Homo sapiens: one gene and its partner. The protein of the gene in region 1 purifies or fractionates together with the protein of each later gene. This does not show direct contact. Each region holds a gene or a part of one and is shown on either strand. Other genes may lie near its edges. The genes, in order: VPS4A and RHEB.

Region 1 (3,811 bases):
CGACTGAGTGCGACTCTGTCTTAAAAAAAAAATTAGCCAGGCATTGTGGCATGTGCCTGTAATCCCAGCTACTCGGGAGGCTGACGCCAGAGAATTCAGAGAATTACTTGAACCCGGGAGGCGGAGATTGCAGTGAGCTGAGATGGAGATTGTGCCATCGCACTCCAACCTGGGCACCATCTCAAAAAAAAAAAAAAAAAAAAAAGAAGCTTCTGGCAGCTGCATTGTTTGACTGGCTTTTTTTTTTTTTTTTCCCCCAGACAGGGCTTCACTGTCTCCCAGGCTGGAGTGCAGTGGTGCGATCTTGGTTAACTGCAACCTCTGCCTCCCAAGTAGCTGGCACCATAGGTGCGTGCCACCATGCTTGGCTAATTTTGTGTTTTTTGTAGAGACAAGATCTCGCTGTTTCCCAGGCTGGTCTCAAACTCCTGGGCTCAAGCGATCCTCCCGCCTCAGCCTCCCAGAGTGCTGGGATTACAGGGGTGAGCCACCGCACCCAGCCTGGGCTGTGAGAGCCACTGCAGGTGGCCTCCCAGAGTATGAGGTGTGAGTCACCGCACCTGGCCTGGGCTGCTCTTTAAGTCCAGCTGAAGCACATTTCCCTTACGGCCTTCAGGAGAGGGCCGACCCGGATTCCCATCTGCTCCGCGAAGAAACAGGGCGGGTTATAGGAGTGTTTGCTGGGGGGGTCCTGAAGTGAGCTGCTGAGAGCATTGGCCCAAATGTCCCTGAAGTACTTGCTTGAGTCACACGGCACTGTTAAGCCAGGAAGGCTTCGTTCCTTAACCAGTGTGCAGGCAGCGGAGCCTGGACTTGCTGGGAGCACCTCTGTGCTCCAGGCTGAAGGGCCAGCTTGTGACTTTCCGTCTCCCTTCCCAGCAGTGACAGTGACAGTGAAGGGGATAATCCGGAGAAAAAGAAACTGCAAGAACAGCTGATGGGTAAGTGGCTCGCGGCCCTGTGGCAGCGGCAGGGGATGAGAGTGGGTCCGCTGCTGGGTTGGCTCATGCCCCTTGGCCGGGCCCGGGCCCGGGCCGGCCTCCCTCTCGCAGGTGCCGTCGTGATGGAGAAGCCCAACATACGGTGGAACGACGTGGCCGGGCTGGAGGGGGCCAAGGAGGCCCTCAAAGAAGCTGTCATTTTGCCAATCAAATTCCCACACTTGTTCACAGGTGAGAGTTGAGCCATTTCAAACCCCAATGTAAAAATTCCAGGCTTCCGCAGGGCTGGCACTCCGAGGCACCCGGGAGTCAGTGGCGACTCAGCCCCCGGGGCCTGCAGAGGGCCAGGCCTGGCTGCTCGCTGGTGTCCACAACACTGCTGTGGCTGGAGCTATGAGATGACGATCACGTCACAGGGTGGGGGCAGGATCAGGAAGCAGTGCCAGCCGGTGTCACTGTGCAAGGTCATGGGGTCATAGCAGGGGCACTGTGCAAGGTCATGGGGTCATAGCACAGGGCACAGCAGGGAATGTAGCTCCCATCACTTGTTTGCCAGTAGAGTCCGTTGTTTCACAGAATGCCCTGTTTTACTGTATGTATGGGACTCGAGACCCTCTGCTTTTCCTATTCCTTTCCCCAGTCAGGAGGCCTAACTTCTGTGGTTCTCTGTTGCAGGCAAGCGCACCCCCTGGCGGGGGATTCTGCTGTTCGGACCCCCTGGCACAGGGAAATCCTACCTGGCCAAAGCCGTGGCAACAGAGGCCAACAACTCCACCTTCTTCTCTGTGTCCTCCTCAGATCTGATGTCCAAGTGGCTGGGGGAGAGTGAAAAGTAAGTCGGCCACCAGGCCATGCTCTGCCAGCAGCCCCGGCACTGCTAGTGACCCAGCGGCCCACCCTGTGGAGTCACCTCTCAGAGGAGTGGTTTGGTTTTCAGGGAGGGTACCCAAGAGCAGTGTGTCGCTAGCTTATCGGCTGGGACACAGTCCCAACAAAGACAAGTGAAGGTGGAAGGGACCTGGGAGAGGTGAAGTGCTCCACAAGAGAAGGGAAAGGAAGTGAGGATATTTTTGGGGTCTGGGTTGCGGTCCCTGTTGGGGCAGTGTGTGGGGGACATGGTTCCCCACACTGACTCCTGTTTTGCGTGTGATGAGACGGGCTCGGAAGAAGGGGACTGACGTGTTGTAAGTGCAGAGCTAGCGCATGGGGCTCCTGGGATTGAGGCTCTGCGTTTGGGGCTGACACCAAGGTGTGCTCCTCCTCTTGGTGCAGTGTGGCCCGAGGGCTCCTCACCACCACGTTTTCCGCAATTCCGGCATGACCGTGGCCTGCGCCTCCCTGTGGGAAGGGTGAGAAGAGGGAAGTGCCGGGAGCCCAGGCGGGCACGGACGTGAACGTCTTGTCCTCACCCCCTTTCTCACCTTCACAGGCTGGTCAAGAACCTGTTTGAGCTGGCCAGGCAGCACAAGCCCTCCATCATCTTCATCGATGAGGTGGATTCCCTCTGCGGGTCCCGAAATGAAAATGAGAGTGAGGCCGCCCGGAGGATCAAAACGGAGTTCTTGGTCCAGATGCAGGGTGTGTGCCGGGCCCAGGGCCCCCTTGGTTCTTGTTGCACCTGAAGCCAACCCTGGGCTTTATTCTGAGCTGCGGCTGGATTTGGTTGTTCTCAGCCTCGGAGAGGCACTCCCCAGCTCCAGCCCCTCAGGGCACGGGTGGACTTCAATTCCCAAGAGGTGCCTGAGGCCTCTGCCTCACGGGCCACTCCACCCCTCCCATGGCAGGCAGTGCCATAGGTCTCACCTGGCACAGCCAGACCAAGATGTGGTTTAATCTCACTTGGGACCCTGCCAGTGGTGGGTGGCACAGGGATGGCTTCAATTGCTGACACACAAAGCCCCCGGGGTCTGTCCCCAGGTTTCAACTGACCCGTGCAGGTGTCCAGAGTCTGAGTCTTTGTCTCCCTTTCTCCACAGGGGTGGGGAATAACAATGATGGGACTCTGGTTCTTGGAGCCACAAACATCCCATGGGTGTTGGATTCGGCCATCAGGAGGAGGTGAGTCTTCCCCAGGAGAAGCCAGGGCTGGAGGCTTCCTCCCACCATGGTCACGGTCCGCCTGCTGCTGGCAGCCCGGGTGCAGCCTGGCCCCTTTTCCCTGGAGTCTTCCCGTCTGCCTGCCAAGCAGAGCCCTTTGTGAGGCTGGCTTGTTGAGGATGTGCCGCCAGCATCACTGGCCCATGAAATGCGTCCGTTTCACTCAAATCTTCGTGCCTCCCCTTCCGTGAATACCATTCCATCATCCGCTGTCAACTCCTGCCGTGTGCTGGGCTCTCTAGGTTTGAAAAACGAATTTATATCCCCTTGCCGGAGGAAGCTGCCCGCGCCCAGATGTTCCGGTTGCATCTCGGGAGCACTCCCCACAACCTCACGGATGCAAACATCCACGAGCTGGCCCGGAAGACGGAAGGCTACTCGGGCGCGGACATCAGCATCATCGTGCGGGACTCTCTCATGCAGCCCGTGAGGAAGGTGCAGTCGGCCACACACTTCAAAAAGGTGAGTGCCCGCGGCCACTGCTGAGAAAAATCTCATAGTAAGAGCGGGATGTTCGGTTTTTTTTTTCCCAGCTCCTGGTCCTGCTCCCCGGCTGCTCAGGTGACACAGTCTCTGAGGCCTCCTGGAGAGCCGAGGGCCAGTGCCATGGGGGCTGCACCCACTGTCCCCTCCCTGCAGCTCTTCTGGAGTGTGGCCATCTCAGGGTGTGTGAAAGCAGAGGACAGGGCCACTTTACTGTCTTAACCCTGCTGCGGCCTCCTCCGTCAGCACTGTGTGCTCTTGTGCGGGGTGGACACCAAATCAGTGTTTGG
Region 2 (3,811 bases), on another chromosome or scaffold:
CCATCATATCCCAATGAACAAGCAATGTATAAACTGGGAAAATGCTGGGCTTGTAGGGAGTCGGTGGGAGGGGGGACAGACCGTGGCTGGAGTGCAGTGGCACGCTCAACGCACACTGCAGCCTCAACCCTTCGGCTCAAGCGATCCTCCTACATCAGCTTCTTGAGTAACTGAGACTATATGCACACATCACCACACTCAGCTAATTTTTATATTTTTTTTGTAGAGATAGGGTTTTATCACGTTGTCCAGGCTGGTCTCAAACTCCTGGGGTCAAGCAATCCACCGGCCTCAGCCTCCCAGAGTGCTGGGATTACAGGCATGAGCCACCACACCGGGCTAATAAGTTATTTTTTAGGAGAATAAGCATGATAACAAAGTCAATATTAATCTGAAAACTTAAAATAATTCTGTAAACAGTGCCTATTTTGCAGTAATCATGAGGTATAAGATTGAGTCAACACCCCTGAAAGTACACCTTCTGTAGTGAAAATACCAGCTGAGAAACTCACTGTGCCATTTTATCATTGGAAAAAATAATACAATGCTGTTCCCTGATAAAAGCTCAGAAGAATTTTTTAAAATAATTTTTATTTTTAAAAGTTAAGGTGGGTTTTGGTTTGGAGGAAGAGTATTTGACAGTTAATTGTAGGAATTGAGATACTGCCTTTTAAACCATTTATAGTAATTTATGTCATTAAATGAGTGATTTGTGTTTGAGGATAAACACACATCTGAGTATGGGCTACTTTTCCATTTATTTGGGATCACTCCTGTGTAGTTTTCATGTAACATTTTTCCAAAGAGTTGATCTGGAGTGTGAGATTATCTTCAGCAAGCGAGTAACAGTGTTTCCAGACCTGAATTTGCTAAGGACAAAAGCCAAAGTAAATATATGAAGTTATTGAGAGAAAAAGGTTAAAGGTGATCACAGTAGAGATCACCAATGCCTTTTTGTGGTTGCAAACAAACTAGAAAAACCTAACCAAAAGATCTGAACTACGTCTCCAGAAGACACTCCTTAAAGCCAGAAATTACAACTGGAACTGAGAACACTTGAAAATGAGCGGTGGGGTTTATTTATGAAGATTCATTAGCATTTAATGCTGACTTGTCAAGATTTCAACACTAGTTAATAATAGCACTTTTTAATGGAAATGGCAAAAAACAGCATGTTAGCAAATATAGCCTTCCTATCCCTTCTGGATTAGTTAAATAATTAATGACCTCACCTTGGCGGGAGAGCCCCAGGGAGGAGAGACCCAAGGGAAACGTAGTTTTTCTCCAGTGCCACTTCTGCTAATGAACAGTACCTTTCTCCTAGGGCCAGTCTGATTGAAAATCCAGTTTCCACCCTGGAGGAATACGTTTTAAATTCTGGTATCCCAGTTTACTATTCATGAAAACAACAGTTGGCTGTCAACCTGCGATGTGATTTTGGTTAGACTACATTGTCTGTTACCGGAATGATTACTTATGTTTTCAAGTGAAATGTTAATTTAGCCTGTCAAATAGTGTATGCCCATTGTGATACAAATAAGGAGCTCTTCTCTCACTCCGTTTTTGCACTTGATCTCATGCTGTCTTGTTTAATGTGTGTAACTTTCTTTTCTGTTCAAATGTGGCTTCCTGAATTTCACGGGAAACTCCTGAGGCTCTTTTCCCCCGTCCCTTCACTCCCGCAAGTCAGGTTGTCGAGACTTGGCCAGTGCCAGTTCAGAGGACTGTCTGATCCAGGGGTTCCTGGTTGCCCAGTGCTTGGGGAGCTTATCCCATGTATCATACTTAGCCCCTCTTTCACTATTTTTAGTCCAGTTCTACTACACAAAATGTTGCAAAAATCTTTTTAATTATATTATTTCCTTTTTTCTTTGTAACTCTTGCCCATATCTTTAGGGAGAAAATGATCGCTTTCTTTCCTTTCTTTCCATTTGTAAGCAAAACAAAAACCCCACAAACCCTTATCCTACCCACATAAGGGTATAAAAAGCCCACTGGAGTCCTTAGAAGTACCTTGCAAAAGCCCTTAAGAAGTTTGTTCCCTTCTTTCTTTCTAATTAAATTTCATTTCTTTAAGCAGTAGCATTCAGTGTAAATAACAGTTTGTTTTTTTTTTACTCCTTCTAATTTTTCAGTTTCAATAACATGAGAGGAGTTTTCTTCTTGCTATTTTTGTTACCTGAAGTAGTTCTGCTGTATTTTGAGTTAAATTCTCCTTTACAGGCTAGCATATATAACATGGTTTCTTTTCAACACAATTCATTTTAAATTTGTGGAATTCTTAAACTATTGTATTCCTATATCACAGGCAAGCCTGTGATTAGGTACCAATAAATACTAATTGAATTGTTTCTTAATTTCTGTTGAACTGTGTTTTGTATTTCATTTGTATAAAATTGAGATCTTTTGTAGTATCTAAATGGCTAAGAGTGACCTTTGGAGATCTACGCTTTAATTTCGTTCATTTGTTCAGAAATCTCAATGTTTACAATGTGTCGGCTGGCCCTGTGCTGGCTTCAGTGGAGTGTTCACTAAATGAATATCATTCCAAATAACTTAATAAAACAGTAGCTATGAGAATGACTTTTAAGGAATGGGTACTACCTTAGGGTGGTCTTGAAGGTTTCTCTGTGAAACTAACATTTGAGCTCAGATCAGAATGACAAAGATGAGTCATATATTCAGAGATGGGGGCAGTGGGGGTTGCTAGAGTAAAGGGGCCAAGGCAGGCAGGAACTCCAGGAGCAGAAGGGATGTGACTGGAGCCTCAGGATGGGTTGTCGGGGGCTGTTGGCGGATGAGGTCAGAGTGGTAACCAGAGCAGGGATGGCCTGGTGTTTGTGGGCCACGGTTAGAAGCTGGGAATTTAGGGCAGGCGCGGTGGCTCACGCCTGTCATCCCAGCACTTTGGGAGGCCGAGGCGGGTGGATCATGAGGTCAGGAGTTCGAGACCAGCCTGACCAATGTGGTGAAACCCTGTCTCTACTAAAAATACAAAAAAAATTAGTCAGGTGTGGTGGCGCGTGCCTGTAATCCCAGCTACTCAGGAGGGCTGAGGCAGGAGAATCGCCTCAACCCGGGAGGCAGAGGTTGCAGTGAGCCAAGATTGCACCACTGCACTCCAGCCTGGGTGACACAGCAAGACTCCGTCTCAAAAAAAAAAAAAAAAAATGTTGAGAATTTATTCTAATTGCAATGAGGATTGGAAGCAGAGAAGTAGCGTTTAATTTTCAAATGCTCATGTAGGTTGCTTTGTAGAGAATAATTTCAGGTATTAGTAATTCTAGAGACATTTTGAACTGTATTGGGCTGCGGATAAGGAGTAAATAGGTCTACCAACTTGTGGCCTTTCCTTCTCAGCAACCCCTACTTTTTTTCTTTTTTTTTTTTTATAAGACAGAGTCTCACTCTGTTGCCCAGAGTGGAGTGCAGTGGCGCCATCTCAGCTCACTGCAACCTCCGCCTCCTGGGTTCAAACTATCCTCCTGCCTCAGCCTCCTGAGTAGCTGGGATCGCAGGTGCCCATCACCACGCTTGGGTAACTTTTTTTGTATTTTTAGTAGAGACAGGACCAACCATGTTGGCCAGGCTGGTCTCGAACTCCAGACCTCAGGTGATCCACCCGCTTCAGCCTCCCAAAGTGCTGGAATTACAAGCATGAGCCACCACACCCGGCCAGCAACCACTACTTTTAAGCCAACTTTTTAATAATTTAAATTTTAAGGAATGCCTTTGGTGTGAAAACATTGTGCAACTATACCTATCCATAGTTTGGAGGAGAAACAAGCATAAATTAAACCCAGTAGTGTAA

What was found.
Region 2: the proteins of VPS4A (region 1) and RHEB purify together in Homo sapiens (affinity purification with mass spectrometry, with the first as the bait; one large-scale study listed by BioGRID). This does not show direct contact.

What each region holds. Positions count from the first base shown.
Region 1 is NC_000016.10:69,317,771-69,321,581, forward strand, and holds part of VPS4A (vacuolar protein sorting-associated protein 4A), read left to right. Parts: intron 1-879; coding exon 880-941; intron 942-1,052; coding exon 1,053-1,172; intron 1,173-1,616; coding exon 1,617-1,773; intron 1,774-2,370; coding exon 2,371-2,519; intron 2,520-2,917; coding exon 2,918-2,999; intron 3,000-3,280; coding exon 3,281-3,500; intron 3,501-3,811. UniProt on the Homo sapiens protein: Involved in late steps of the endosomal multivesicular bodies (MVB) pathway. Recognizes membrane-associated ESCRT-III assemblies and catalyzes their disassembly, possibly in combination with membrane fission.
Region 2 is NC_000007.14:151,492,199-151,496,009, reverse strand, and holds part of RHEB (GTP-binding protein Rheb), read left to right. Parts: intron 1-3,811. UniProt on the Homo sapiens protein: Small GTPase that acts as an allosteric activator of the canonical mTORC1 complex, an evolutionarily conserved central nutrient sensor that stimulates anabolic reactions and macromolecule biosynthesis to promote cellular biomass generation and growth.